Linked DNA regions of Homo sapiens. The protein of the gene in region 1 interacts with the protein of each later gene in a pairwise test. Each region holds a gene or a part of one and is shown in the gene's direction. Other genes may lie near its edges.

Region 1 (7,979 bases):
GACCCCTGCCAAGGCCACAGGGAGTCCCCAGGAGCCCTGGTGGAGACCTCTGCAGGGGAGGAGGCCCAAGGCCAGGAGGGCCCCGCAGCCGCCCAGCTGGACGTGTTGCGCCTGCGCAGCTCTTCCATGGAGATCCGAGAGAAGGGCTCCGAGTTCCTGAAGGAGGAGCTGCACAGAGCGCAGAAGGTGGGTGCCTGCAGTAGGCTGGGGGGTCTTCGGTGGGGAGAAGTCAGGTTGGGAGAGCTGTGGGCTCTCATCAGGTGCCCAGAGATGTGCCCAAGGGAGAGGGATGTGCCCTCACCGAGGCCAGCTGCTGGCCAGGCCTGTACTGGGCGCACCGATGGTCACCCGTCTTGACTGCAAACGTGCCCTGAGCTCTGATGAACTGGCAGGCAGGGCTTCAGCTTCATGCTGTGGCTAAACGGAAAAAGCATCACAAACTGTCAGGCACCAGAGGAAATAAACTCTGAGCCCCACATAAAATGACGAGGGGATGGAACCTGGTCCGGTGGGCCTGGTCCCTCCCGTGCCAGGCCTGGGGATGCTGAGGTGCTCAAGTGCCTGCCTCTTTTCCTCCAGGAGCTGAAGCTAAAGGACGAGGAATGTGAGCGGCTGTCCAAGGTGCGGGAGCAGCTAGAACAGGAGCTGGAAGAGCTGACGGCCAGCCTGTTTGAGGTACACCGGCTGGGCGCGGGAACAACTTGGGGAATGGGTCATCTGGGCGTCCGTTGGCTCCTCACCACTCACGCAGGGACTGCCTTCTTCCTAGGAAGCTCACAAGATGGTTCGAGAAGCCAACATGAAGCAGGCGGCATCAGAAAAGCAGCTGAAGGAGGCTCGGGGCAAGGTGAGGCCCATCCCCGCCTGCCCAGGCCAGCCCAGGCACCCCCCCTGCCTCCCGGCTCAGCGAGCACTGAGCTTTGCTGCCCGAGTGGACGCTCACCTGGCCCGGTGGGGCCAGCAGGAATGGGTGAACCTAGGCCCAGGGAGGGAAGGGAAGGGTGGGGGTCTGAGATCACAGGGCCCAGTGTCCCGGGGCTCCATCAGTGATTCTGCTGCATGGCAGAGCCTTTTCTGGGATAGTGCTGGGGCTGGGAGGACCCTGTGATTATTGTACCTTCTTCCCTCTCCTCCCAGCCCCACTTTACAAAGCAGAAACCTCACTCAGTATGGCTGTCTGAGCCTGGGCAAGTCGCTTCCTCTCTCCAAGCCTGGTTGCCCATCTGCAAAATGTGAGGCCTGGGCCTTTCCTGGCTCCTGGGGGCGGTCCCAGAACTCTCATGGGAGGCCCAGCCAGCTCCCAGACACTTGTTCCTAACAGAATCCTGCTCACAGAGTGACCTTGGGCAGGCCATGTCGCCTCTGTGAGCCTCAGTTTCCCTATGTGTAAAACGAGTGTCTGGGTCTCTGCCTCGAAGGCTGTTCTGAGGGCGTCGGGTGGGACTAAGTGCCTGTCACTGCAGGGGTGCATTGTCCTGAGTTAGGCTGATAGGCGGTGGCAGCCAGGATGGCATCCAGTCTGGGTGAGGGTTGACAGCCATCCCATCCCATGCAGATCGACATGCTGCAGGCAGAGGTGACAGCCTTGAAGACGCTGGTCATCACGTCCACACCAGCCTCTCCCAACCGCGAGCTTCACCCCCAGCTGCTGAGCCCCACCAAGGCCGGGCCCCGAAAGGGCCACTCTCGCCACAAGAGCACCAGCAGCACCCTCTGCCCCGCCGTGTGTCCCGCTGCGGGACACACCCTCACCCCAGACAGAGAGGGCAAGGAGGTGAGGGTGGGAAGCGGGCTCTGGGCACGGGGAAGGGTGGCAGTGCCTGCGGTAGGCAGGGTCCGAGCCCAGTGAGGACCAGCCTGCCCCATGCTGTGTGACCTGGAGCCTGTCCTGCGCCTCTCTGGGATGTGAGGGCTGGGCAGGTCCTTTCTCTCCAACCTCCTGTGATCTGAGGCACTTGGCCTGCAGCCTCCAGGGTATACCATCTGGGGACCTGAGGCCCCCTCCCTGCCCCACTGACTCCAAGCAGTAGGTAGTGGTCTCTGCACCTGAGGCTGGCTTTGGCCCTGAGGATCTGGGGCCTCCACTGAGACACACACTTCCTTGGCCTTAAGAGGCCAAGCAGCAGCCACTGGGCCTCAGGGGAGAGGCTGCCTGGACCCCGTGTGGCCACAGCCTCGAGCCCCAGGACCACCTGGTGACAGCCCTGTGCTCAAGGGGTTTCTGGCACCCTCTGACTGTGGGGCTGAGACAAGCGTGGCCTTTGGAGAGGTGTCTCCGTCCCACCTCAGCTGGCCACACCAGTTGCTGGGCCCAGGCTGGGCTGACACTCATGGTCATGGGTCTGTAGGCAAATGAGGCCACCTGTCAGCACCTCAGCTTTCTCACCTGATAAATGGGGCCTCCCGGGGCTGCTGGAGGAACCAGAGACAGGGACATCAAGAGCTGAGTTCAAGGCTGCACCCAGGTAGTGCCTCAGAGGGCTGTGGTGCCTTCAGCTTCCTGGGTCCCTGGCGCCAGCCCACTCGACTCCATCCTGGCTTCCACCTCTGTCTCCAGGGCCTCCAGGGAAGACGAGCAGGCCCTCATCCACCTCCTGAGCTCTGAGCTTCTGAATGTACATTAACTTCTCCCCTTCCTCCTGTTCTGTCTCTGTGCACCTGTCTACCTGTCTGTCTGTCTGTCTGTCTGTCCATCCGGCCCAGCCCGGGCTGGCCCCGCTGCTCTCCCTGCTCCTCTGCGTGGTCCCCAGCAAGGCGGTTCACCTCACCTACGAGCCGGCCTGGCCGCTCCCACCTGGGGAGCCCCCAGCCCCTGCCTCCACTCCCTCTCCCTCCTTTTCCCGACAGGTAAATGGCTCCAAAGAGGGGCCTCCCACTTTGCCCCCTCCCAGCCTCCCTCATTCTGCATGTGGCCTGGAGCAGGCCAGCAGTCACCTCTGAGGTGTGGGCCCAGGGCAGCCTGTGTGTGTCCCCTCCTGTGTGCACGTGCTTGTGTGTGCTTGTGTACCTGCTGGTACCTGTGGCCTCCTGCTAGTTGCTCTTTGACTTTTCCTCCTCAAGGAGGCACTGAGGGTCTTCAGGACAAAGCCCTGCACCCCACTCTAAAATCCAGTAGCGCCAAGAAATTTAACACCGGCCTGGAAACAAAACTTTTAGTTCTAAATTCTTTGGTGCAAAGGGCAGAAGGGAGCTCTGCTGCTGCTGGACTTGGCTTCCCTGCACGGCTGCTGGGGATCGACCTGCTGGCTTGCTGGGCCTGCCCCACGTCCTCCCTCGCTCCCCTTCAGCTCAGCCTGCATCTTCTATGCTGGCCCCAGTACCCTGACCGCCCCCACCCTCGCTTGCCCTCCCCCACAGGTGGACACAATCCTGTTTGCAGAGTTCCAGGCCTGGAGGGAATCCCCCACCCTGGACAAGACCTGCCCCTTCCTGGAAAGGGTGTACCGAGAGGACGTGGGCCCCTGCCTGGACTTCACAATGCAGGAGGTGAGGCATGGCAGGGGCGGGGCCAGCTGGGGGACACACCCCTCCGCCAGGGCCCAGCCCCTTACCACCCTGCCTGCCTCCCTGGTCTGCCACAGCTCTCGGTGCTGGTACGGGCCGCCGTGGAGGACAACACGCTCACCATTGAGCCGGTGGCTTCGCAGACGCTGCCCACAGTGAAGGTGGCCGAGGTTGACTGTAGCAGCACCAAGTAAGCTGAGGGTCTTAGCTCCTTCCTGCCCATGTGGGAAAGCCCCGCCAAGCCGTGTGTTTACTGTGCCGAGGGGTGGTCAGGATGCAGCAGCGCCGACAGGACAGGGACAGTTGCTGCCCCCACAGGGCAAGGAGGCAGTTTGGCAGGTTTCCTGTGGACCCCCAGGCTTTCCAGAGAGGCCGGGAGCTAGGGTCTGCCTCTTCCTGACTGGTCTGCTCTGTGCCCTCCCCTTCTTTTCTTGAACCATGATTATCAGTTGCTGGCTGTGCCCCTGCCAATAAATAACGACGCAGTAGCCCTGGCATTTGTCCTCCAGCTACTCACCTGGCATTGAGCAGGGGAGCAGCAGAACAAAATAGCCAGGGTGGAGCAAGGGGCAGAAATTGGGGAGGATTTCACCTTGGCAGCCAAGAGCCTGGCTGGGGATGGCTGGTGCCCTGGTGGGAGGCTCATCACGGAGAGGGAGCATTTGAGCCAGGTTTTGAAGGATGAATAGAAGTTTGCCAAGCAGGGAAGGGCATTTCAGGCAGAGGGAACGGAATGTGCAAAGGTGTGAGAAGCTGGAGTATTAACGGAAGCACCACTGGGGCATCTGGCTAAGCAGTGGGGGGACAGGGAATTGGGGTGGAGGCTGCAGAGGCTGTTGGGGCCAGAGTATAAAGAGCCTTCACAGGTTTGGGCTTTAACCCACCAGCCAGTGCGGCAAAAGTCATCAATAGGCCGGGTGCAGTGGCTCACACCTGTAATCCCAGCACTCTGGGAGGTTGAGGCGGGTGGATCACTTGAGGTCAGGAGTTTGAGACCAACCTGGCCAACATGGAGAAAACCCCATCTCTACTAAAGATATAAAAGTTAGCCGGGTGTGGTGGCACACGCCTGTAATCTCAGCTGCTCGGGAGGCTGAGTCAGGAGAATTGCTTGAGCCTGGGAGACGGAGGTTGTGGTGAGCTGAGATTGCACCACTGCACTCCAGTCTGGGTGACAGAGTGAGACCCTGTCTCAAAAAAAAAAAAAAGTCATCAATAGCTGCCACCTGAAAAGAGGCTCTCTGGTCCATCAGAGAGTCCCAGTGAACCAGGAGGCAACAAATGCTCTGATAAGTCCGCAGCCAAGGAGCTTTTTAAACCTTCATTTATTTGGGATTCTCCCCATTTCTTGGGAATTAGGAAAGCAAGAGAGAAAGATGATGGGTTAGATGTGGGTTTTTGGAGGAGCCCTGGCTCTGATGTGGAGAAGAAAGAGAGCGATGAGGCAGAGAGCTGGCCAGAAGGAGCCAAGGGGATGCAGGCCAAAAGTACTGCTGCTGTGCCCTGGCCTGGGGACTTGGTGACCAAGCAGAGGGTGAGGAGGAGAGAGCCGAGCAGATGATGGCCAGTGAAGAGCAGGTTTGGGGAGTGGGGCCCAGATGGGGGTTGCTCAGGGCCTGTGGAGACCCTTCATGTGGGTGGCTGAAGATGCTGAGCGACGTCATGCAGGACTGGGGGGAGGAGAGAAGAGGGCATGGGAGAAGGCTCTTAGACGGGGTTGGTTGGCATGCGGCTGAGAACCATGGGGGTTAGTGGGGTCAGAAGGCCTGCATGGATGAAGCAGGGGAGCTGCTGGATGTTGGGAAGCGGGAGGCAGCCAGACCTCAACTCTGGCCTAGTTGGGGGAGGAGTGCCTGGTCTGAGTCCCCAGAAGTAGAGGGAGAGGCATATGCAGAGCCTGCAGAGGGTGGGACTTTGTACACCTGGCATGAGATTAACCAAGCTCTCTTGCCCAGTAGGGGCAAAACAAGGGTTCTAGGGGTACAGCTCAGCTTAGTTCGAGGTCTGTCCCAGGGATGGCTGGGGCCAGCTCCCTTCTCTGCCTGGCTCTGGGTTCCTTTGGAAGCCGGGTGGGGGAAGGGAGGCCTGCCCCTCCCCATGCATCCTCTCAGCTGCTGCATCTTCCCTGTATGCAGGGGTGAGGGAGAGGGGCAAGCCCCAGCCAGCCCCCGTGACCCATTTTGCTTTCCCCTAGCACATGTGCCCTGAGCGGGCTGACCCGCACCTGCCGCCACCGAATCCGGCTCGGGGACTCCAAAAGCCATTACTACATCTCGCCATCTTCCCGGGCCAGGGTGAGTCAGCCTTTGCAAGCGTTACTTGACTCCTTTGGGGCCACCTGGGTGCTGGGACACTGGGCCCTGGGCCTGGGAGTATGAATAGCACTACACCTTGATTTACTTATTTTATTTATTTATTTTTTGAGACAGAGTCTTTGTCACCCAGGCTGGAGTGCAGTGGCACAATCTCAGTTCACTGCAATGTCTGCCTCCCAGGCAGACATTAGCAATTCTCCTGCCTCAGCTTCCCAAGTAGCTGGGATTACAGGCATGTGCCACCACGCCCAGCTAATTTTGTATTTTTAGTAGAGATGGGGTTTCACCACGTTGGCCAGGCTGAACTCGAACTCCTGGCCTTAAGTGATCTGCCTGCCTCGGCCTCCCAAAGTGCTGGGATTATAGGTGTGAGCCACCACGCCCAGCCTTACATCTTGATTTACAGAGCAGGGTACAGGCTCAGAGAGGCGCAGAGACTGACTCGGGCCACACAGCCAAGCCAAGGGCAGTGGTTTGCTATTACGGTGTAACAAATTACTATCAACCTGGTAGCTTAAAATAGCGCAGTTCCCCATGTTGGAGTCTAAGCACTACTTACTTACTGGATTCTCTGCTCAGGGACTTGCAAGGTCGCAGTAAGCTGTCAGCAGACTGTGTTCCTTTCTGGAAGTCAGGGTCCTCCTCAAAACTCACATTGTTGGCAGCATTCAGTTCCTTGTGTTTGAAGGACTGAGGCCCCTATTTTCTTGCTGGCTGCTGGCAAGGGGACACCCTCAGCTTCTAGAGGACACCCGCAGTCCCCTGCCACAGGGCCTTGTTGCACAGGGCAGCTGACTTCAGAGCCATCAGGAGGGCCACTCTCCAGTCGGCTGAGATGCAGCCTTATGTATGAAATGTCATGGGATGACATCGCCCCCCTCTGTCATTCAATGTCACCTAATCCAGGAGTGATGCTAGAGTTCCAGTTAGAGTGCGGGGCTCCTGACGCCCAGACTCAGGTGCTGGCCGAAGCTTTGGAAAAGGTTCAGCGGTGCGTCTGGTGCACCAGCCTTAAGTCGGCCGTGAGTGCCAAGGGGCCTCTAGGAATCCCAGCTCCCACCCTCCCCTGCCGAGTGACCCAGACCAGGACAGGGGTTCTCACCAAGCTGGGGATTGAGGACAGGGATTCCTCTTCCTCTGTCCCTCTGTTGACTCTTAAGAGGATTGAGGGGAACAAGAGAACATGTTTGGAAACACGTTTCCAGTGACACAGCTTGAGGAACCATCTCAGGCCTGCTAGAGGCTCCTCGCAGGGGAGCAGGTCTAAAGGGGACAAATGGTCCCTTTGCTGGCAGCAGACTATACTGTCCTTGATGAACTCCACAAGGCATCCGAGCGTGAGTCCTCCCAGCGGTGTGCTGAGCACCCATTTACCAAAAGGGAGGCTGAGCCTTGGCAGAGGAAAGGGGTGTGTTCAGGGCCACACACCGAGACCTGGGATCCTGGCTCTGAGTCCACTGCAGCCCCTACCCTGTGGATTTGTGCCCACTGAGCCTTGTTCAGTGGCCACTTATCTCCATCACCGCTTTCCAGGCCCAACCATGGCTCAACAGCAGGCCCCACAAAAGATGTTCCCGTGCTCAACAATGTCACCTCTAGCACTTTAAGTCCCTGGCCTGGGTGTCCTGCTGCACTGGATGAAGCTGGGGGTGGGAGATGAGGTGAGGAGGGTCTGAAGTTTTAGGATGTGGTCCCTGCCCTGAAAGACCAAGACATGTGGGGTCCACAGGGAGAAGTGTTTTCTCCCTAGCACACTCCCTGGAGAGGGAAAGCCCCCTCCCTGCTACTCCCTGCTCATGAGCCTCTGTGGGCATCCACTGTCCCTGCTCCTGTCCTGAGCTCTGCCCTGCCCCACCCTCCTGCCGCAGCCTCTCCTCAACCCTCCCTGTGCAGCGGTGTCCCTGCCACGACGGGCTGGTCCCCCGACCTCGCCCCGCTCTCTCGCACCTCCCTATCTTTGCCAGGCCACCACCGTCCCGCCCCTCCCCGAAGCTTCTCCACTCCCCAGCCTGCGGGTGCCCCTCTCACTTGATGTCCCTCCCCAGGAGTGTTGGACATTCAGTAGGGGCTGTTGCGGGCGGGCACAGCCGCCGGCTACCTTCCACCCTGTCTTAGGCTGGGTTCCGAAGAGGCAGAGCCTCACCTGGAGATTGTGTGCAG
Region 2 (7,979 bases), on another chromosome or scaffold:
AGAATCACCATGAATCCATCAGGCCCTTAGAAGCTTAAATGCTGCTGTTGTCTATAAAGTTTAGTCATATGCATTCGTAACTTTATTATGAATTATAGGAGAACAGATAAAAATAGCAAAGTAGCCTTATCAACTAGATGTAGTTTCCCCTCCAAAGAATTTATTAATAATTTTATTTAAAGAAAATCTTTTGTAGTTTTTACTACTTAAGCAACTACTTTCTTTTAAAGTGGTCAGGAAAAGCAATCATACAAAATAAAGATATGGGAGAAATTTAAACATTGAAATATTTTGGAGTTTGTATGCCATTTGCTTAGTTGTCTTTTACATGTAAAATCCACAATTCCACATGGCATGCAGGTTTTCTGTGTGTTTGGCATAAATCACTAGTTTAATTTTTTTTGCCTCTAACGTTTTTTCTCTAATAATTTCAACAGTAGCCCATTTAATATTCAATATATTAACTTGTCTTAAATGATATAAAACCTTGGCAAACCTTAATGATAAGCTCCCACCCCCTTGTTGTAAGTGTCTATTGTGTGTATTTCAAAATAGTTACTTACATCTAAAAATGTTCATTCCTCCTTAAAGAGTTGAACACATACGTTTTATAAAATCGTATTTTTTTCTTTTTACTTATTTTGCTATTTCTATTTCTTCATGGTAAATACTTAGGATGGTTTGTCTCAGTCTTTCATATTAATCGTCTCACTTGAGAAGTATTCATCCTTTCAATGTTGTGAGTTAAAAAGTTTGGTGATGGATTCTGGCTTGTTTATCTCCCCTTTTTGGGACTTGAAAATATACTTTATTGAAGCAAAAGAAAACAGTTCTGTGACCCACTTTTTAAAAGAGAGGTTTATTAATTTGTTGTCCTGATACTGGAGCAAATAATGTCAGACTTTTGGCATAATCAGTTAGTATATGCATATAAGAAATAAAAATTCATAGAGTATGATGGTACCAATTATGAGATATGCTAAGTGCTGAAAATGTTTGAAAAAGTTCTGAAACTCCTTGGAGACAGTGTGTTCCAAAGTGGCCTTTGTGGACAGAAAAGGCTTGGACTTAAAATTTTGGTATCTTTCTGAAGATCTAATAAAATTCACTAAATTGAAAGGAGCTGTAAACATTTTAGAATGTAATTGTTAACAACGTGCTTCCCTAAAACAAGTTTTTTCCCCTCCTCTATATCATGTTGAACTATGAAAGAAAGTGCCTTGTTCTGTTGACCAGGGATAACTTTAGTGTTAAATAGTGGTTGGTTTTCAAATTTTCTGAGACTATAGTTCACATTTGAGCCCTTATGTGTTTAATATAAACTAAAATTATTATCTTGGTGAAGAATAATAGATTTGTTTCAACCAGCTGCCTTAGACACTTTCTCTTGATTAACTTAATTTAGTAATAGCAGAGGTCTTATTAGCTGCTTCCCAAATTGAAAATAAAGATGACATTATTTTGTCTCAATACATATCGTTTATAATACACGATAGTAAACTGGTTAAAATTGTTTAGTGGAATTTAAATTTTTTTAAAAAAGACAGCATAATAGTGTGTAAAGAGATTAATTTAGACAACTTTAGAATATAACAACTTAGAAGATAAGATTTTGATAGTACAAAGGTTTCTAATTGAATGTTAACAAAATTATGAGTTTAAGTTTATATAATTTCCAAATGTATGTTAAGATGTTAATAGTTTCTTTGTAACTGTTAACCATGTATACAGTTTGGAGCAAAGCCAGGCCTTTTGAAAAATGCACATTCTAAATTTTAAAAAATGTTTAAAATACATTTCTAGTTAGTTTTTTTATAATTAAAGGATTTTTTTGAACATAGAGTAAATATAAAGTAGATTATATTTCTACCATTCTATGTTCTTTTGTTTAAATTTTCTTTATAAAGCAATATAATAAGCATAGATAACTACACAAGTATTTATAGCTCTGTATCATTTATTACCGTTTTCAGATATATTGCAGTCTTTTCAATGGTGTAATGATGGATACAATAAAATTTGTCTTAAAAGTGGAGCCAAAAATTTGGGAGTACATATTTGTTAATCTTTAGTGTTCCTCTTTCTTAAAAGCTGTTCTTTTAAAAATAAGGGAGATCAAGTTAATTGGTTGTCAAATCAAATAGCAATTTATCTTACTGTTTTTGATAAGCAGTGAGGTAAATATAGTTTAAATATACTTCTGAATGCATTGGTTGCAGTAATAAATTCTGCTGTTACTCTACTTATTTAGGTAGAGGGAATTTACTGTGTTTTTTGATGAGAACTAAGTATTCATAAAAGAAGGGGCATTACTTTAGTGTCTCAATTTAAATAGAAGAGAGGGTAGATACACTGTCACTGTCTTTAAGGTTGTGTTTTAACAGGGGACTTAAAAGTGGATTGTTTACTATGTGGTTAGCTTTAGAAGACTGTTAGAAACTAGATGTTTTGCTTTGTCTTTCCAACACTTTCTGGGATGTTTTTACTCTTATCTGAGCAGTGTGTTTTAAAGCATGTATGTAATAAAATGTAAGTGCTCAGATGTGTATGTCAGTCAGCTTTTACAGACGGTCCTTAGGAAAAAAAAAAGGCTAATATCTCTTTAAAAAACATATGAAGGCTAGGAGAGAGTTTAGAGCTAGCAAGAGCACCATGGTGTTGACAGCTTTATATCCCTGCTGGGTAACATTCACTTACTAGAATTGGCGTCCCCTCTCAGCTAGTAATTCACTCCATAAGGATTTTGAAAAAGGATGATTAATGGTGGGGAAATTTATATTTGTGAAATTGTTGATTAAAACTTACAGATCTATTTGAAGATTTAGGAAAAGAAGGGATTATTAAGGATGATGAAAATAAGAATCAGATGATCCTTTTTACCACTATTAGCATAAGTACCTAAAATGTTCTGCTGTATGGAATGCTTCAGCCATGCAACTTACAGCATAAAATGAAAGTGATGCCAATCAAGTTTCCAGAGGAAGCAAGGCATTCTGCTTTTCTCCTGGACTGCTGAAAGGTGCTGGCCAGTTGTGCTTTAATAGCAATAAATTATTGTGCTTCATTCATTGTTAACACAAGCATTTTCATTTTTTAATGTTTGGCTTAAAGAAGAACTTTCAGACAGCTTTATTTAAACTGAATGAACAGCGCTTGAATATACCAGATGGTGTATTTGCTGATAGGAGACATTAAACATCAGAAATCTTTTTGATATTTTTCATTTTCCTATGAATTTTTATGATTTTTTGGTGTTAAATGTTCTACATTTTAGGGAAAAATATTTAAACATTGAAAATATCTTTTAGAGAGATTTGCTTTTTTTATTAAAAAAACTTGCTTATTTCTGAAAAATAATTTATGTTTTATAAATAACAATTTAATTTTGTTGGCATACTGTCTGTTAAAGTTATCTTATAACTAGTCTACCTGAAGTAGACCTATTCGTGCTACCAGGCAGCCCTTTCAAGAACATAACTGTCTTGTTGCAAGGGGGAAAAAAATCATTATGCAGTACACACTGATGTATTCAAATAGGGAAGCAAATGTGATCAAGATTGTTAGTCAGGGCCTCATTTAAAGCTGAACATTGTCTACAACAACAGTTAGTTTAATTGTCTACATGTGGAACACTTCCTTTTAGATGAAAAGAAATGCAGTTCGGGTCAGGTGTAGTCACCATATCAGCAACAGTAGAGAGACATTTAACTTTTTGAAAGGAATGCAGATATGAAAGTATAGATAGGTATATATTGAGATTATAAAATACTTAGAAATATATTGTTAACATGGGCAAAATGGAGAAAACTCCATTCCCAAGGATGAATATCATAATATTTGTAGGAAGTACACATTACTTCAAAAGAGAAAAGATTGTATTTCTCCCTCCTCACTTTTTTTTTTTTTTTTTAAGGTTTTAAGATCTTTTAAATAGAATGAACTTAGGCTTTGGGGTCATCCAACAATCTAGCCTGTCCTCTGTAGTTTTGCTGAGGTAGAAAAATAACTCTTCTCTAAAGTGTTTTTAGTTCTTGGCCTGTTATTAAAATAAAGATATACTTGGTTAAAAAAATATATGCAGTGGAACATACACATTAAACAGAACATAGGGTATCCGCCCCTCAAAGTCCTGAGCATAATTTGATGTTTCAAGTAATTTTGGAAGCCTTATGTTCCATCAGAAGAAACCCACTGACCATTGTATACTCAAGATCATCTGTAGTGCAGTGTGTGTGTGTGTGTGTGTGTGTGTGTGTGTGTGTGTGTGTTGGAACTACATAGATGTCCCTTAAGGCATCTGTTTTTTAACCCCTGCAGAAAATAAGCAATATCATCCTTTCCCAGAGGGTTGTAACCAGCAAAGTCTGTACATATGAGATATCCTGTTTGAATTCTTCTTTTCTTTCTTGAATTTTGTTTTAACCAATCTATCTCTGTAGAGAAGGGAAAACAGACTAATCATCATTTATTAGATAGCTAAGAATATGAATTTGAGTCATTTTAAGTATACGGAAATCAGTTTTATTCCAGGAAAGACTACAGTAATTATTTGGTATATCTGACAAAGTAGTAAGCAGTGAAGTTTGATGGTTATAATTTAAAACCCCTATTTTTCTTTCTTTTTAAAAAGTATTTATTATAGAATCAGCATATGTGTATATATTTAAAAAGACATGTTAAATTTACAGGGCTAGATGAATTCCAAATAGTATTATTTTCTTGGGTTATACTTATCTTTTAAAGCTTTTTAGGTTTCTGTTGGAATAAAATTTCTCACCATTAAAATGTTTCTTATGACTAAGAACCCACATTAGGTGTGTAAAATATGTACATTGTTTTATTTCAGAAAGCCAAACTTTATCCTATATAGCATGTAAATTAATAAAGAATTCTTTATATTGTTTAATCAGTAGGCTTTTAAAAAACCTATATAACTAATATATGGTAACATAGTAATTTTTACTATCTTCCTTACATGAATACTGAGATACAATGGCATTTTGGAACATATTTAAAGATGGAGCATTTGACAAAAGTTGTATGTGTAACAGTTTGTCAGTGAAAAGTGACAAGTGGGAAATGACAAATGAAATGTTGGCATCATCACTCTTTATTTTGATAAAAATGTCTCAATTTGCAGTGATATAATACTGTTTCATATTATTTCATGAGTTGTGTGAGAATGCATAAGGGGAATTTAGATTTTGTGAACGGAAAATTAGCAGCCCAAAGTCTCTTTTCAGAAGCTTTGGCAGCAAGTTCCCCGTCTCCCCCACTCCCCAAGAATAAGAACAGCAGTGAAATGTTGGATCTAACCCATACATTTTAACTCATTATTTTTTGGAAAAAACAGAGAAATAACCTAAAATGGTTTCGAGTAGGAGACCTTTATGCTTAACTCAAAAAAATGAAGAAAAGAGTTTGCCTTTTAGTTTCTATTCTTTTCTTTGTAGCAATTTTTAAATGAATGATTTGCCTCTACTGACTTTGATTGTATGGTCTTTTTTCACTTCCAATCAACACTGCTCTCCAGCATTAATTTAGGGTGCCAGTAAGGAGAGCTGTGAATTCCTGTTATTTTAAAATGCAATAGAGGTTTTGAAAATGTCTGTGGTGAAAATGGATTTTTATATACAAAAGATTCATCATCCTACTACTTAAATGTAATGTGATAAATATTTCAAAGTCAAAGTAGATGCCCTGAGTGGAACTGAGGTATGACTAAAACAAAAACCAGTTGAGGACTTACAGAGTTTGAAAAAAGCACAGTTGTAGTCATTATAGTATGCTATTTTCCGTTGCTCTTTATTGTTAGCAATTAACCAAACATTATTTTTCTTCTTTTATGTAGAAACAAGCCCTGTAAGCATAACATGCTACAGTGTTTTTGTAAAAATGTTCCATGGTGGAGTTTTCAAAATTATGGAACTCTAGCTATATATATTTGTTTCAATTAACAGAATTATTTTGCTTTTTAGTAGCAAGTGATTTAAGAATTGTGGTAAAATCAGTATAATTAAGTGGCACTGAAAGGCTACATCAGAAATTGCATTCTACAACTTCTGTATCTTTGCTGCTCAATTAAAAAGTTTTACTTATTTCAGATTTTTAAAAAACTAGATAAAAAGACATAATATGGAACAAGTGTGCTTTAGATATATAATTATGACAATAGAGTTTATGGCATGCATTTTTTTTCCCCTTTTTAATTGATGTCCTTTAACTTAAACAAGTGGATGTTATGGTTATTAGTTTGACAAATGCCTAAAATGCAGATAAAAGCATGAATAGAAATTTTAAGAATTTGAAACTTGCAATAAAGTTATCAGCAAACTATGTCAGTTTTATAGTAAGCATATTCTTTATTAATGATTATGACACATAGGACAGGAAAACCTTCTGGGGAAATATATTTCAATTTTAGTTGCTCCTGGTACTGTTACTCACTAATAGTGTGTGGGCAGATTCAGTTCTGCTCTTACCTAGTAGCCGTATCATTGGAATGGAGTTCTATCGTAGTACAGTTGGTTATTAAACTGTAAAATAACAAAAAAGATCAAAAAATTAAGGGGAGGCACTGCAAGCTACTATTTATCAAAAGGGATCCATTTCAAACCAGGGTAACTGGTGCCCACTGATGGTTGCACAGTTACTGAAATGTGCACAGCAGCTCAGTGTCTTTCTTTTGTTTATTTGACTGAAGACTTACACAGATATTTATGTATATAATATATAAAATAAGAGACTCTAGTTAGAGCAAATGTTTTCCAAAGTGCTAAGATCTGACAGAGGTGATTTGCAGGGGTTTGTCGTAGAAACAGCGTGAATTTCATCACGTTAACCACATATATCTTTTTCTTTCTTTAAAAAATACTTTTTACTTGTTTTTGCATTTGGCTGGAAAGCAAGTGTATCAGTTCTTTCATAACTGATTGTGATTGATTTTTTTTTTAACACAAGAAAATATTTTCTTTGCAAAGAGAGCAAATTTGATTGGATGCCATGCCCAAGACTCCTGGGAAAGGACCAAAGGACCAAAGGCATAAAGTAAAAATAACTGTATTTTTAGATTTCCCAATTATGTCCTATATTAAAATTGAGTACTTTTATTGCATTTGTTTCAATTATTATTACATATAAGGAAAGGCAAAATTGATATATTTAATAGCTTACTGACGATGCATTCATATCAAAACACTTGAAATAGCAATAGCATTTTTGAAATATTATTTTTTGGGGGTTAACAGAACAAGAACTTTCTTTTGTCATAATCCAAAGATGCTAACAGAGCAGCATGATAAATGTCTCTTTAAGTGTCGTAGTAAAAGAAAATGACTTGTCTTCTGAGGCAGTGGAGAGTTTATGTTGTTTTGGACCCATTTCCCAAGCAGTGATCGAAAACAGATTACAATAACAATTATACAGTCAGAAGATGCAATATCCATTTCTGCTTTAATTGAGTGAAAGAATAATAAAAACATCATTAAGAAAAATGAGGTGGACCTGTCACACAATGTACAAATTTTTAGTCTTGGAGAAGATGCAGAAAAACTGAAGTGCTTTTCGCATACTTTGTTGTGTTTATTAGCTAAAATCTGTTTTAGGGAGAGACCATTTGGCTCTCATTCTTCCCTGGGAAGTTCAAAGAGGAGCCCATGGAAAGTGGTTGCCCAGGAGACATTACAAATGACCATTGACTTTGTCTTCATACACAGTTTGACCAGGAAAATCCCATTTTCTTAAATTCTACCTGAGGTGGAACTACTCTCTCCCCCTCCTTTTTTTTTGTCTCTGTAAATGGAAGTCAGAAGTAATGAATGTTCCTCTTGTTACAAAGCCCAGCCAAGTAAGGGTTAGATGGGGTTCCTAGGCCTGCTGTTCTTCCTCTTCCCAAAGTCCAAACTAGGCTGAAGGGGAGAGAGTTGAGGCTGAATAATGAGCACCCTCATTTCTTCTCAGCACACACCGGGGTAACCTGA
Region 3 (4,553 bases), on another chromosome or scaffold:
GAATGTCAGAGGCCCAGAGAGGGTGTGAGACTTGTCCCAAAGTCACACAGAACCTCAAGGGCTTGTGCTGACTCCAAGCCTGCAGAGTGGGCTCCTCCTCTAGGCTCCCCCGTGCTGTGCTCCCTCGCCCCACCCTGCCCGGGACCCAGTTCAAGTAATTCAGGATAGGTTGTGTGCTGTCCAGCCTGTTCTCCATTACTTGGCTCGGGGACCGGTGCCCTGCAGCCTTGGGGTGAGGGGGCTGCCCCTGGATTCCTGCACTAGGCTGAGGTTGAGGCAGGGGAAGGGATTGGGAATTAGGGACCTCGTGAGGTAGGACTGGCCAGTGGAGTGGAAGTTTTGATCGTTTTCTGGCGGGGGGTGGGTACAGTTTCCCCAGCAGTGGTCAGGGTAGCTGGCCAAGCGGAGCCTGCGGGCCCAGTCTCCTTCCTGTGCGCCTCTGCCTCCCTGGCCCATGCCCTGCCAGCCCTCGGCCACCCCCACACTGCCCCACTGGCCCGCAGCCCCCTCACTGGCCCGCCCCCCAGGTCTACGTGTTGAAGCGTCCTCACGTGGATGAGTTCCTGCAGCGAATGGGCGAGCTCTTTGAATGTGTGCTGTTCACTGCTAGCCTCGCCAAGGTGAGCCCCACAGGGGTCCCGGGGCAACCCTGCCCTCCTACCTACCTCCCGCATGCAGCCCAATGAACCTGCGGGCCCCAGGATGACCCACCTCCTGCTCCCAGTACGCAGACCCAGTAGCTGACCTGCTGGACAAATGGGGGGCCTTCCGGGCCCGGCTGTTTCGAGAGTCCTGCGTCTTCCACCGGGGGAACTACGTGAAGGACCTGAGCCGGTTGGGTCGAGACCTGCGGCGGGTGCTCATCCTGGACAATTCACCTGCCTCCTATGTCTTCCATCCAGACAATGCTGTGAGTGCGGGCTGGACTGGGACTGGGACAGGAGCTGAGACCCAGGAAGGGGTCAGTCCATTCAGGCCACCTTGGCCTCTTGGATCCCCAGTTGGGGGGTGGGTGCCCTCCCAGTCCTTCCTGCATTCATTGCCTGTGCCTGCCGCCCACTCCCCTCATCCACCTGCCCTGTAGCCATATGGTCTTTTCCCCTCGCACAAAGCAGAGCATCTGCCATGCACAGGGGCCCCCACAGGGCAACGGAGTTTGGAAAGTTTCAATTTTTCGAATTGCCAGTTGTGACCTACTGATGGCCCACAGAATTAATTTAGTGGGTTCTGATTGGGAATTTTAACAAAATGAAATAGAATAGAAAATATCCGGTCGGGTGCAGTGGCTCATGCCTGTAATCCCAGCACTTTGGGAAGCTGAGGTGGGCAGGTAGCTGAGCCCAGTAGTTCAAGACCAGCCTCGGCAACATAGTGAAACCTTATGTCTACAAAAAATACAAAAACTAGCCAGGCGTGGTGGCGCATGCCTGGAGTCCCGGCTATGCAGAAGGCTGAGGTAGGAGTATCACTTGAGCCCTGGAGGCAGAGGCTGTGGTGAGCCAAGATTGTGCCACTGCACTCTAGCCTGGGCAACAGAGCAAGACCCTGCCTCAAAAAAAAAAAAAAGTATCCGAGTGCTTCGCACAGATAAGGTTAGGAATTGTGAAGCTTTTGCATTGTTACGTTATAAATGTGTTTTCCTGGGGATTGCTGTCAAAAAAGTTTGAACACTGTGGGTGAGGGGTTTTCAGAAACTGCATGATCTGAGTAGTGGCTACATAGGGCTGGCCTGGAAATTCTGCACCCAGGACCACCTGCCCCCCTCATCTTCCTACACCCACTTCCCCAGGTACCGGTGGCCTCGTGGTTTGACAACATGAGTGACACAGAGCTCCACGACCTCCTCCCCTTCTTCGAGCAACTCAGCCGTGTGGACGACGTGTACTCAGTGCTCAGGCAGCCACGGCCAGGGAGCTAGTGAGGGTGATGGGGCCAGGACCTGCCCCTGACCAATGATACCCACACCTCCTCCCAGGAAGACTGCCCAGGCCTTTGTTAGGAAAACCCATGGGCCGCCGCCACACTCAGTGCCATGGGGAAGCGGGCGTCTCCCCCACCAGCCCCACCAGGCGGTGTAGGGGCAGCAGGCTGCACTGAGGACCGTGAGCTCCAGGCCCCGTGTCAGTGCCTTCAAACCTCCTCCCCTATTCTCAGGGGACCTGGGGGGCCCTGCCTGCTGCTCCCTTTTTCTGTCTCTGTCCATGCTGCCATGTTTCTCTGCTGCCAAATTGGGCCCCTTGGCCCCTTCCGGTTCTGCTTCCTGGGGGCAGGGTTCCTGCCTTGGACCCCCAGTCTGGGAACGGTGGACATCAAGTGCCTTGCATAGAGCCCCCTCTTCCCCGCCCAGCTTTCCCAGGGGCACAGCTCTAGGCTGGGAGGGGAGAACCAGCCCCTCCCCCTGCCCCACCTCCTCCCTTGGGACTGAGAGGGCCCCTACCAACCTTTGCCTCTGCCTTGGAGGGAGGGGAGGTCTGTTACCACTGGGGAAGGCAGCAGGAGTCTGTCCTTCAGGCCCCACAGTGCAGCTTCTCCAGGGCCGACAGCTGAGGGCTGCTCCCTGCATCATCCAAGCAATGACCTCAGACTTCTGCCTTAACCAGCCCCGGGGCTTGGCTCCCCCAGCTCTGAGCGTGGGGGCATAGGCAGGACCCCCCTTGTGGTGCCATATAAATATGTACATGTGTATATAGATTTTTAGGGGAAGGAGAGAGGGAAGGGTCAGGGTAGAGACACCCCTCCCTTGCCCCTTTCCTGGGCCCAGAAGTTGGGGGGAGGGAGGGAAAGGATTTTTACATTTTTTAAACTGCTATTTTCTGAATGGAACAAGCTGGGCCAAGGGGCCCAGGCCCTGTCCTCTGTCCCTCACACCCCTTTGCTCCGTTCATTCATTCAAAAAAACATTTCTTGAGCACCTTCTGTGCCCAGCATATGCTAGGCCCACCAGCTAAGTGTGTGTGGGGGGTCTCTACGCCAGCTCATCAGTGCCTCCTTGCCCATCCTTCACCGGTGCCTTTGGGGGATCTGTAGGAGGTGGGACCTTCTGTGGGGTTTGGGGATCTCCAGGAAGCCCGACCAAGCTGTCCCCTTCCCCTGTGCCAACCCATCTCCTACAGCCCCCTGCCTGATCCCCTGCTGGCTGGGGGCAGCTCCCAGGATATCCTGCCTTCCAACTGTTTCTGAAGCCCCTCCTCCTAACATGGCGATTCCGGAGGTCAAGGCCTTGGGCTCTCCCCAGGGTCTAACGGTTAAGGGGACCCACATACCAGTGCCAAGGGGGATGTCAAGTGGTGATGTCGTTGTGCTCCCCTCCCCCAGAGCGGGTGGGCGGGGGGTGAATATGGTTGGCCTGCATCAGGTGGCCTTCCCATTTAAGTGCCTTCTCTGTGACTGAGAGCCCTAGTGTGATGAGAACTAAAGAGAAAGCCAGACCCCTATCCTGCTTCTGTGGTTATTGCGGGGGACTTCAGCAAGTGGGGTGTGTGCCTTGCACCTGCGGCTGCCGTGGGCCCCCCCCCCCCCGCTTCAGCACACCTAGAGGGCTGTTGGTGGAGGGAGGGGCTGCCCGGCCCTCGACACTTCAGGTGGGAAGGGCAGCGTCAGAGCACAAATTTGAGCCTCCAGGCTGTGCTCGTCTACGTCTTCCCGCCTCGGGTATGTGGTCTGCAAAATGGAGATGTGCCCTATTGGCAGGACTAATTAAGTGCCTGGACACAGACGACAGGATACTAGTAGCTGGAAAGCAAAATTCGAAGGCCTGGGTAGGGGCAGTCCTGGAATGCGGCGGGGGAGGGGGCGTGGCCTCTGCCCTGGAGCAGAGGGGCGGGGCTTGTGCGGCTCCGAAGGCAGAGGCGGGGAGCGGGGCGAGGCTCTGGGTGGAGGCTCCAGCGGCAGAACTTGTTGGCCTGGGTGCGGCGGGCTCCGGCGCCTGGCTCTGCCGGGCGGCCTGGGTGGGGCCGGCGCCGGGGCTCGGCCCCCCCCGCCCCTCTGCGGCCTCTGAGCAGCCATTGGCCGCGCCCCCGCCCCACTTCCCGCCCCGCCCCGCGTCCGGGAGGCACTTCCTTTGCGAAACCGCGCGGCCCCAGGCGCCGGCAGGAAATGCCCTCCCGCCGTCCCCAGCCAGCCTTTGCTTGCTTCCCACGCCAGCCGCTAGAGGCCTCCCTGTCCTCGCGGACGCAGGAACTCCCCGGGGGCTGGAAAGATGGGGCCCACCTCACTCACCCCTTTCCCGGGGGTCGGGCGTTTCTGGAGCCCCCACCGCACACACCCAGGGAAGAAGGGGGAAATGCCTCTCAGGTGTTGGTGCCTGCGCCCCAGCTCCACCTCCCCATCGTGTCTGCTCAACACCTTACCTCCTGAATCCAGCCCCCAGGCGGCCTCTTGGTGCCCCAGACGCTGATCGGTCCCCAAGTCTGTGTGAGGGGGAGTCAGCGCTGTGTGAAGCCGCCCTTTGTCCTCCTTCCACTACTTTTCTCTGGTAAAAAAGATTCAAGAAGCACCCTGGAAAAACCTGCAGTTACCCTAGTCTCAGTTTTGGCCTGGGCTGGACCACAAGA
Region 4 (8,584 bases), on another chromosome or scaffold:
ATTTTCATATCTCAGTTGTTTTGTACGTCTTTAAAGAGCCTTTACTAGAATCTTAATTTCCTAGTATCCATCCCCAAGAAGAATGGAAGAAAACTTGATGTATGCACTGGTGGTATAAATCTCACTACAAAAAGAACTATTTTTCACTATATATTTCTTCAGGGATAGACTCCATATTGAGAATAGGAAAAAGGACAGAGAGAGAGAGAGAGGAAGAGAAACAGAGAAGGATAAATTGGTTCTTTTTCTTCGGAGTCCTCAGGTGCCTCTGAATGTTTTTACATCCGGTCTCTTAAATTTTAGAAGAGCAGCCAAAATGTGGGGCTCATAGGTTTGTTAAGATAACAATTAAAACTGCCCTCTACCACTAACTATCCAAGTATGCACAGTAACACAAAAAACTAGTCTTTAACAGTGGGCATTTGGTTTCCTCTGTGTTTTAAGGAGAACACGGGGAGGACGTGTGATTTCAATTGCGCAAACACAGTTTGTGACCTGTTTCGTTTACAAAAGGTTAACTTTTTACTGGAGAATCTGGTTAATATTGAAAGTGTTTAAATTAATTCTGCTTGAGAACTCTGTAGTTTAAGTGCTTTAGTGAAAGCGTTTAAGTTTCAGGAAAAAAGTTACAACCCGCGCCCAACGTGGGGCTCGAACCCACGACCCTGGGATTAAGAGTCCCATGCTCTACCGACTGAGCTAGCCGGGCGCCTGTTACGTTAGCCTGCTTTTTTACTTCTTGAGGACTGTTTAACTACATGGTTTTATATTCTCCGCGTAGTTTCTTTTCTAAAAAAATTTATAACGTACTATTAGATCGGCACTTCAGAATTATTTTTCAGAGCGTTCTAAATATTTAATTGTACTTAGATTTAAGAATGTTTGTATATGTATCCAAAGATCATTGAAAACTTATGCGAATCTTTATCATTACAGAGTCATTGAATCTTTTTAACAAAGTGTTTAAAAATATTTACCAACCAATATGTTTTGTTTACATAAACACATATCAAGGCCATCCAACTTCCATCAAATGGCATTCCGGATTCCTACATGTTTGGGCTCCGCATTTAGAAACAAAGTCCAATCTCTGAGGGGTTAGTTTCCCTGAACAACCGCGGGGCTTAGCTATTTTCTTTAGCATGGTCTGATGAAGGAGAGTTAAATTCAGAAAAGGGGGGCTTCGAGTCAATTAATATAAGGTCTCTTTAGCGTAATTGTCTGACAATGAGAGATAGGACGTTTGGAGGGTGCTATTATTCTCCTCAAGTGACAGGAGCTGGGAGGAAAGAATTATAGTCTCTGAATCTAATGGTAAAGAATGTGAACTCTAACAGGCAAAGGGTCAGAAACCCGATTTTAATCAAATTACCATAGGAGATACTGGAATAATGTCATATGGAAATACATATACTCTGAAATGATGGTGAACCTTTCTAGATAAGAAATTCTGTCCGGGCGCGGGATGCCTGTAATCCCAACACTTTGGGAGGCCAAGGCAGGTGGATCACGAGGTCAGGAGTTCGAGACCAGCCTGGCCAAAATAGTGACCCCCCCCCACCCCCACCCCCCCGTCCCCAACTACCGTCTCTACTAAAAATACAAAAACTTAGCCGATCATGGTGGCCGGCACCTGTAATCCCAGCTACTCGGGAGGCTGAGGCAGAAGAGTCGCTTGAACCCGGGAGGCGGAGGTTGCAGTGAGCCAATATCACGCCATTGTACTACAGCCTGGGCGACAGTGCGAGACTCCATATCAAAAAAAAAAAAAAAAAAAGAAAAAGAAATTCTTCTAATTTCTGTGATAATGGAGAGGGGTGTGGTGTTTATACTACTACTTAGCAGTGCAAGTTAAAGACCAATTTGTAAACCTGAAAATAACAAAGAATTCTTAGGATAGTATCCCCAAAGCACAGTATTTGGAAGCTAGAAACATTGGGCATCACATTTCCTGAGGTATTCAATTTAAAAATAACATATGTCATAAAATAGTATACATTTAGAGTTGTCTTGCTCTGTCGCCCAGGCTGGAGTGCAGTGGCATGAGGCTCACTACAACCTCCGCCTCCCGGGTTCAAGCAATTCTCCTGCCTCAGCCTCCCAAGTAGCTGGGACTACAGGCACCCGCCATCATGTCTGGCTAATTTTTGTAGAGACGGGATTCACCATGTTGGCCAGGCTGGTCTTGAACTCCTGACCTCAGATGATCCACCCGCCTAGGACTCCCAAAGGACTGGGATTACAGACATGGGCCACCACGCCTGGCCTTTTTTTCTTTTTTCTTTTGAGAGGGAGTCTCGCTGGGCTGGAGTGCAGTGGCGTGATCTCAGCTCACGGCAACCTCTGCCTCCCGGGTTCAAGCAATTCTCCTGCCTCAGCCTCAGCCTCAGCCTCCGGAGTAGCTGGGACTACAGGCATGCAACACCACGCCCAGCTAATTTTTGTATTTTTAGTAGAGACAGGGTTTCACCATGTTGGTCAGGCTGGTCTCAAACTCCTGACATCAGGTGATCCGCCTGCCTTGGCCTCCCAAAGTGCTGGGATTATAGGCGTGAGCCACCGCGCCCGGCCGAAAGAACCCCCAAATTCTTAATTATTAATAAATATTGAGTGCACTAGGCACTCAAATAGTGTTTATCACACACAAGTAATGATGTTAATTAAAAGATTAACTGATACCTAAACAAGTTTTGAGTACTTACGGTTTACCTCCAAGGCCAAACCTTCTGCAACTATTAACCTTTAGCTTTCTTCAACACTTTCTTGGACTATCTTGGTCTAAATCCGAACTCCCCAGGAAAGAACTGCAACTAGAGGCCAGGTGCAGTGGCTCACGCCTGTAATCCCAGCACTTTGGAAGGCCAAGGAGGGTGAATCACCTGAGGTCAGGAGTGTGAGATCAGCCTGGCCAACATGGTGAAACTCGGTCTCTACTAAAAATACAAAAACTAGCCTGGCATGGTGGTGCACACCTGTAATCCCAGCTACGCGGGCAGTTGAGGCAGAAGAATCGCTTGAACCCCGGGGGTCAGAGGTTGCAGTGAGCAGAGATCATGCCACTGCACTCCAGCCTGGGTGACAGAGCAAGATTCAGTCTCAAAAAAAAAAAAAAAAAACCACTTACAACTAGAATGTTTTAACGAGGGTTAGGTAAATTAAGTGGCTAGTCTTCCAAGTCATTCAAGTCCTTTTATCTATCGGTTTGTTCAAGAATAAAAACATCAATTGTAATGCTTCATTAGCAGGAAAAAGCAAAAGTAACTGAAATTCCTTTTTCCCCCTTACTTTCTATACCCAATTCTGCAAGCCCTATGTCTTAGCCCATATTCTGCTGCTATAACAGAATACCACAGACTAGGTAATTCATAAACAAGAAAAGTTTATTTGGCTCATGGTTTTAGAAGTCCAAGAGCATGGCACTGACATCTGGCAAGGGCATTGTGCTGTGTTATCCCATGACAGAGGATCAGAAGAGCAAGCGAATATGTGAGACAGAGAAAGCTGAAATCCAGTGAAACTCACCCCTTTATTAGGAACCCACTTCCAAGATAACTAACCCATTCTGAAAATGTCATTCATCCATAGTGCCCTCATGACCTAATCACCTCTTAAAGGCCCCACATCGCAATACCATTACATTGGCAATTAAATTTCAACACGTGTTTTGAAGGGGACATTCAAACCATAGCTCCCTACACATCTGAAATCCATCTACATATTTCCACCTCCACTGCCACCACTTTAGTCCAAATCACTCTCCATTACTGCTAGCTCACAAAAGTGCAATAACTTTCCAACTAGTATCCCTGCCTCTCTTCTTTCCCTTAGCTATCATTCTTCACACAGAAACAAGAGGTCATTTAATGATTTAAATCAAATCATATAATTCTCTTGCTTTAAAAACTCCTGATAACCTCACAGTAGAAAACCAATAATAAATGTGAAAAGAATGATGGAATTAGAAAATCACCATTTGGCAACCATTGTAATAATCAATTCAAATAAGAATCATCAGATATTAGAATTAATGAGTGAAATGTTGAGGCGTAAACAGGATGTGTACATATTCTCAAAGTATTTCCTCACAAGATACTAATTACAAAGGGAAAAATGAAACATTATCAGGGATAAATCTTCAGCAAGTGATCAAAGTTAACATTACCAGCAATAAAACAACTAACATCATGTCCCTTCTAATGTAATGCTCTGACATGAATGAATACAAGGTCATTTCTGTAGTATTCCTGCCATAAATGCATCACTTGAATCAAATAACAAAAAAATCAAACCTAAATTAAGGAATATTCTACAAAATAAATGGTTTGTATTCTTCAAAAGTGTTCATGCCATGAAAACTGAAGAAATACTAAGCAACTATTTTCCAGACTAAAGCAGATTGGAAACATGACAACTGAATGCAAGGTGTGATCTTGGATTTTCTTTTGCTATGAAGGACATTATTGGGCCATTTACCAAAAAAAAAAAAAAAATGCATAAAGTTGATAGATCATAGTATTGGTAATTTTCTGATTTTCACAATAATACTGTGTCTCTGTGAAATAATGTTCCTGTGTTGGGGGAAAATACACACTGACGTATTAATATTTAGGAGTAAAAAAAATGCTGATGCCCTATTTACAATCGGATTAAAATTCAAACCACTTCAAGATTTGGTCTCCTGTGCACTTGTTCTCTTCCTGTCATTCTTCCCCACTTAATCATTATGAGAGGTCACTCTGACGTGACAGTTCCCAGCGCAAGCCAAGTTTTTTACTGTTCCCTAAACCACTGTCTTTTGTTACCCTATTTTAGTTTAAATATCACTCACTCAGAAAGTCATTCCCTGAGCACACTGCCTAAAGTTAGTACCTCCATTGTCTATTAAAGCACTCTTTCTTCTTACTATTTTGCTTATTTATTGTTACCTATTTATTCCCACTGAATGGAAATTACATTAGAAATGGGGGTATGCTCTGTTCACGGCTTTTTCTTGAACACGTGGAATATACTAGCGCTCAAAAAATATCTTTAATCAGACTTATCTTTAACTCTTACCAAAAAGCGTTATACTCATAGAAAGAGCACTAATACTTCCGTAAAATTCTAAGCTGAATTCAAAGACGATACCCTTTAAGTGAAACTTCACGAGAGCCTGAGCACAAGGAGGTGAAGTGGATGCCATCAAGATTCTGGGTCAGGGTCGGGACGCGGAGGAAGACAGGTTACTTCGCGCCTACTGCTTTTTCTACTTTTTGTGAGAGTATACCAGCATCTCTCCCTTTGGCTTAAAGAAAGAATAAAGTGAGGAGAGAATAATAATATAAAAGATAAATAATAATTCCAAGGAAAGGAATAGAGCAGCTTCTCAGATACCACGACGCCAAGCGGCTCAAAGTACGCGAACCGAAGGAGGAGCCTTTGCTTTCCCCAACCCCGCCTCCATTGCTTCTGCACATGCGCGCCGCCAGCCTCTCGCGGCCCGCTTTTTTCCCACAATACTCCTCGTCCTGGGGGCCGGAGCCGCGGAACGAGCCACAGAGAAAAAGGTTATTGGTTGGCAGTTCAGCCAATGAGCGGGCCTGTTACTAGTTTGCGGCATCCTGTGGTATAGGGGAAGCGCTCCGGGCCTGGAATCCCTACGCGTCCCTTTGGGTTTAGCACGATGAGCTCAATCGGCACTGGGGTGAGTTCGCTGTCTGTCGGTGTAATAGTTTAACCTAAGGATTGGGGTTGAAGGGAACTCGGACAGACCACATGGGGTTCGCGGACCCGGGGTGCTCTGAGACCGCCTTCGGCTGGGTGGGCCATTTGCAGCTGTTTGGAGACCGGTCGTCTTTATCCCCTATATGCTAGGCCTGCGTCTCAGGTGACCGTGACTCCTGAAGCTTTTCAGCGCAGGTGTAGCCGGCTTGGCGTCGCCGCAGTGAGGTTTGGAGCCGCTTTGGATTGCTGAGTCACTTTCTTCAGCCACTTAGGGAAACCGAAAGTGGAAACTCGTGGGGCTTGAAATAGTGTGTTCTCTTGAGAACCACCGAGGCAGTGAGATTTGGGATTCCGGGGTCTGGAGATCGTGCTTTTTGTGGACTGCGTTTGCAGTTCCTAGGGTGCTGCTGATTCACAGGCCTTCTCTGTCTTTAAGTGTGCAGATCATTGACCGCTCAGTTTAAGAGTCACTGGAAATCCTGTCGGAACAGAACTAATAAAAATGGTCTGAAAAACAATCTGATGAATCCTTCAGTTTTTCCTTTCTCGTTTTTCCTATACAAATTACCTAACAGCGCTTGTAGGCATTTATTCCGTAAACGTTTAAATGGTTACTTAGGAACTTAACAGCTTCAGACTTTTCATAGACTGTTGAGGATTTTGCAGTGGGACTTGTTAACTTGTTTGGCTTTCCTTTGTTAAACGTATTGCATATGTGCAGTCAGTTTACTCCTTTTATGTACTTCTCTATATAGAAAATACAGTTTCTAAAAGATTTATTGGTTATTTGCACTAGAGTTATTGAATAATGAGTTTCTCAGTTCCTCAATTTCTACTTCTTAACAAGATTCTCATGCTCAGCCTTAAGTTCAAGTACCGGTGTTCTAAATTTGATAATAGGCAACTTATGTCTGGAATGGTTTAATCCATTCAGTTATGAATGCTAAAGTTCTGCCATACTTTTCTTGGATAAGTAAATGCTCAATATTAAATCTTGTAGCAAACTGACTTTGCAATTATATTAATATTACCTTGAATTAATAGTATTTCATTCTACAAACCTTTTAAAGAATACTTGATAATGTAACCATGTGGGATATTTTAGTAACAATGGTAGGGTTAATGATCTGGGTTTAACAGATCAGGAAACAGACTCAGAAAGTACCACTGCTGAAGGCTTTTCTTCTGTCTTCATTTCTCCCAAGAACTCCAGATACGAATATTTGTTTGTCTGCTTGACATGTCTGTTCACTTGATCGTTTAATAGTCATTTCGTACTGCATGTGAAAGTAGAGCTCTGGGTTTTCTCCTCACCTTGCCATTTTGCATCTACTACAGTCTTCAGCTCAGTGAATGGTCATATGAAAAAATCTGTTATTCATCTTTAATTCCTTTTTTTACTTTACTCCCAGAACCAACGCTTTAGCAAGTTTATTTTTTTATTTTTATTTTGTTTGAGACGGAGTCTTGCTCTGTTGCCAGGCTGGAGTGCAGTGGCACGATCTTGGCTCACTGCAACCTGTGCCTCCCAGGTTCAAGCAATTCTCCTGTCTCAGCCTCCCGAAGAGCTGGGACTACAGGTGCGCACCACCACGCCCAGCTAATTTTTGTATTTTTCGTAGAGATGAGGTTTCACCATGTTGGCCAGGATGGTCTCCATCTCTTGACCTTGTGATCAGCCCGCCTCACCCTCCCAAAGTGCTGGGATTACAGGCATGAGCCATCACGCCTGGCCTAGCAAGTTTATTTTTATTATTTTTATATTTTACTCTACTCTCAAAAAATATTCCCTTCTACCTCTTCTCTCGTCTAAGCTACTACCGCTATCTTTGGAACACCTTATCTTTGCTTCTGTTGTTCTCTCTACAGCTTATTTTCCGCATAAAGCCAGAATGATGTTTTTAAAAATATAGATGATACCACTCCCCCTGCTTAAATTTCTCATTGCATTTAGAATAAAATACAGAGTCCTTTTTCCATCCTGGAAGACACAACATAATCTGGCCCTCAGCTACCTCACTAACACAGTTTACTCTTCTTTCTGCTGCTTACAGTGCTTGGGACACAGTGACCTTATTTCTGTTTCTTGACTGTGCTAGCCTTATTTCTACCCTAAGATCTTTGTGCCAAATGTCAAGAAGACTTTTCCTTCATATCTTAAATGGCTAGCTCCTTGTCATTTAGGTTTGACTCAGCCTAAATATAACTGCCCAGAAGGCCTTCCCTGATGATGTAGTCTGTAGTAGTTCATTGCTTTACTCTTTTATTTTCATCTTAGTGCCTTTTCTGATTTACTGCTGTACCTCTAGCACCTAGATTCATGTCTGATGTGAAACTGAAGGACTTAATGAATGAGTATACCTTTGTATTCCGTATAGTAACATAATAGATACTCATTAACTGCTTGGTGAATGCCGAATGATTTGTTTGAAGTCTTTTAGTTTGTTAATGGCAGAGTTATCGTTACAAATTTAAATGTTCGAACTCCAGTGCTGGTTCTACTGCCCCATATTAATCTTTTTCAAAAATGAGTTTTGTAGTCTGGGTGAAAAGTGTTCTGACTTCACCTGGGACCTGTATCCATTACTCTTCAATAGCTGAAATCGAAGGTATATAGCTTTATCTTAGCTACTGTTGCTGCTCTGACAAGTTTCCCTTTCCTCTCTTGAAAGCAAGGTCTTTGTTGGGATATAACAGGTTCCTGATGTTTCAGCCATTTAGAGGGGAAGAAACTGTATGGTCATTACTGCCAAAGATACAAGCTTACTGTTGCCCTTTTCTCCTTAAGTATGACCTGTCAGCCTCTACATTCTCTCCTGACGGAAGAGTTTTTCAAGTTGAATATGCTATGAAGGCTGTGGAAAATAGTAGGTAAGAAACA

Evidence for each region.
Region 2: the proteins of RAB3IL1 (region 1) and SATB2 interact in binary tests that used the Homo sapiens proteins (3 or more experiments, as listed by UniProt).
Region 3: the proteins of RAB3IL1 (region 1) and CTDSP1 interact in binary tests that used the Homo sapiens proteins (3 or more experiments, as listed by UniProt).
Region 4: the proteins of RAB3IL1 (region 1) and PSMA3 interact in binary tests that used the Homo sapiens proteins (3 or more experiments, as listed by UniProt).

What each region holds. Positions count from the first base shown.
Region 1 is NC_000011.10:61,900,261-61,908,239, reverse strand, and holds part of RAB3IL1 (guanine nucleotide exchange factor for Rab-3A), read left to right. Parts: coding exon 1-186; intron 187-579; coding exon 580-675; intron 676-769; coding exon 770-847; intron 848-1,137; coding exon of another isoform or gene 1,138-1,232; intron 1,233-1,555; coding exon 1,556-1,774; intron 1,775-3,357; coding exon 3,358-3,486; intron 3,487-3,581; coding exon 3,582-3,694; intron 3,695-5,698; coding exon 5,699-5,798; intron 5,799-7,979. UniProt on the Homo sapiens protein: Guanine nucleotide exchange factor (GEF) which may activate RAB3A, a GTPase that regulates synaptic vesicle exocytosis. Promotes the exchange of GDP to GTP, converting inactive GDP-bound Rab proteins into their active GTP-bound form.
Region 2 is NC_000002.12:199,447,381-199,455,359, reverse strand, and holds part of SATB2 (DNA-binding protein SATB2), read left to right. Parts: intron 1-7,979. UniProt on the Homo sapiens protein: Binds to DNA, at nuclear matrix- or scaffold-associated regions. Thought to recognize the sugar-phosphate structure of double-stranded DNA.
Region 3 is NC_000002.12:218,402,508-218,407,060, forward strand, and holds the end of CTDSP1 (carboxy-terminal domain RNA polymerase II polypeptide A small phosphatase 1), read left to right. Parts: intron 1-138; exon of another isoform or gene 139-215; intron 216-503; coding exon of another isoform or gene 504-527; coding exon 528-620; intron 621-724; coding exon 725-910; coding exon of another isoform or gene 911-1,084; exon of another isoform or gene 1,085-1,647; intron 1,648-1,789; coding exon 1,790-1,918; 3' UTR 1,919-3,434; downstream 3,435-4,553. UniProt on the Homo sapiens protein: Preferentially catalyzes the dephosphorylation of 'Ser-5' within the tandem 7 residue repeats in the C-terminal domain (CTD) of the largest RNA polymerase II subunit POLR2A.
Region 4 is NC_000014.9:58,239,259-58,247,842, forward strand, and holds the start of PSMA3 (proteasome subunit alpha type-3), read left to right. Parts: upstream 1-5,584; 5' UTR 5,585-5,662; coding exon 5,663-5,683; intron 5,684-8,491; coding exon 8,492-8,574; intron 8,575-8,584. UniProt on the Homo sapiens protein: Component of the 20S core proteasome complex involved in the proteolytic degradation of most intracellular proteins. This complex plays numerous essential roles within the cell by associating with different regulatory particles.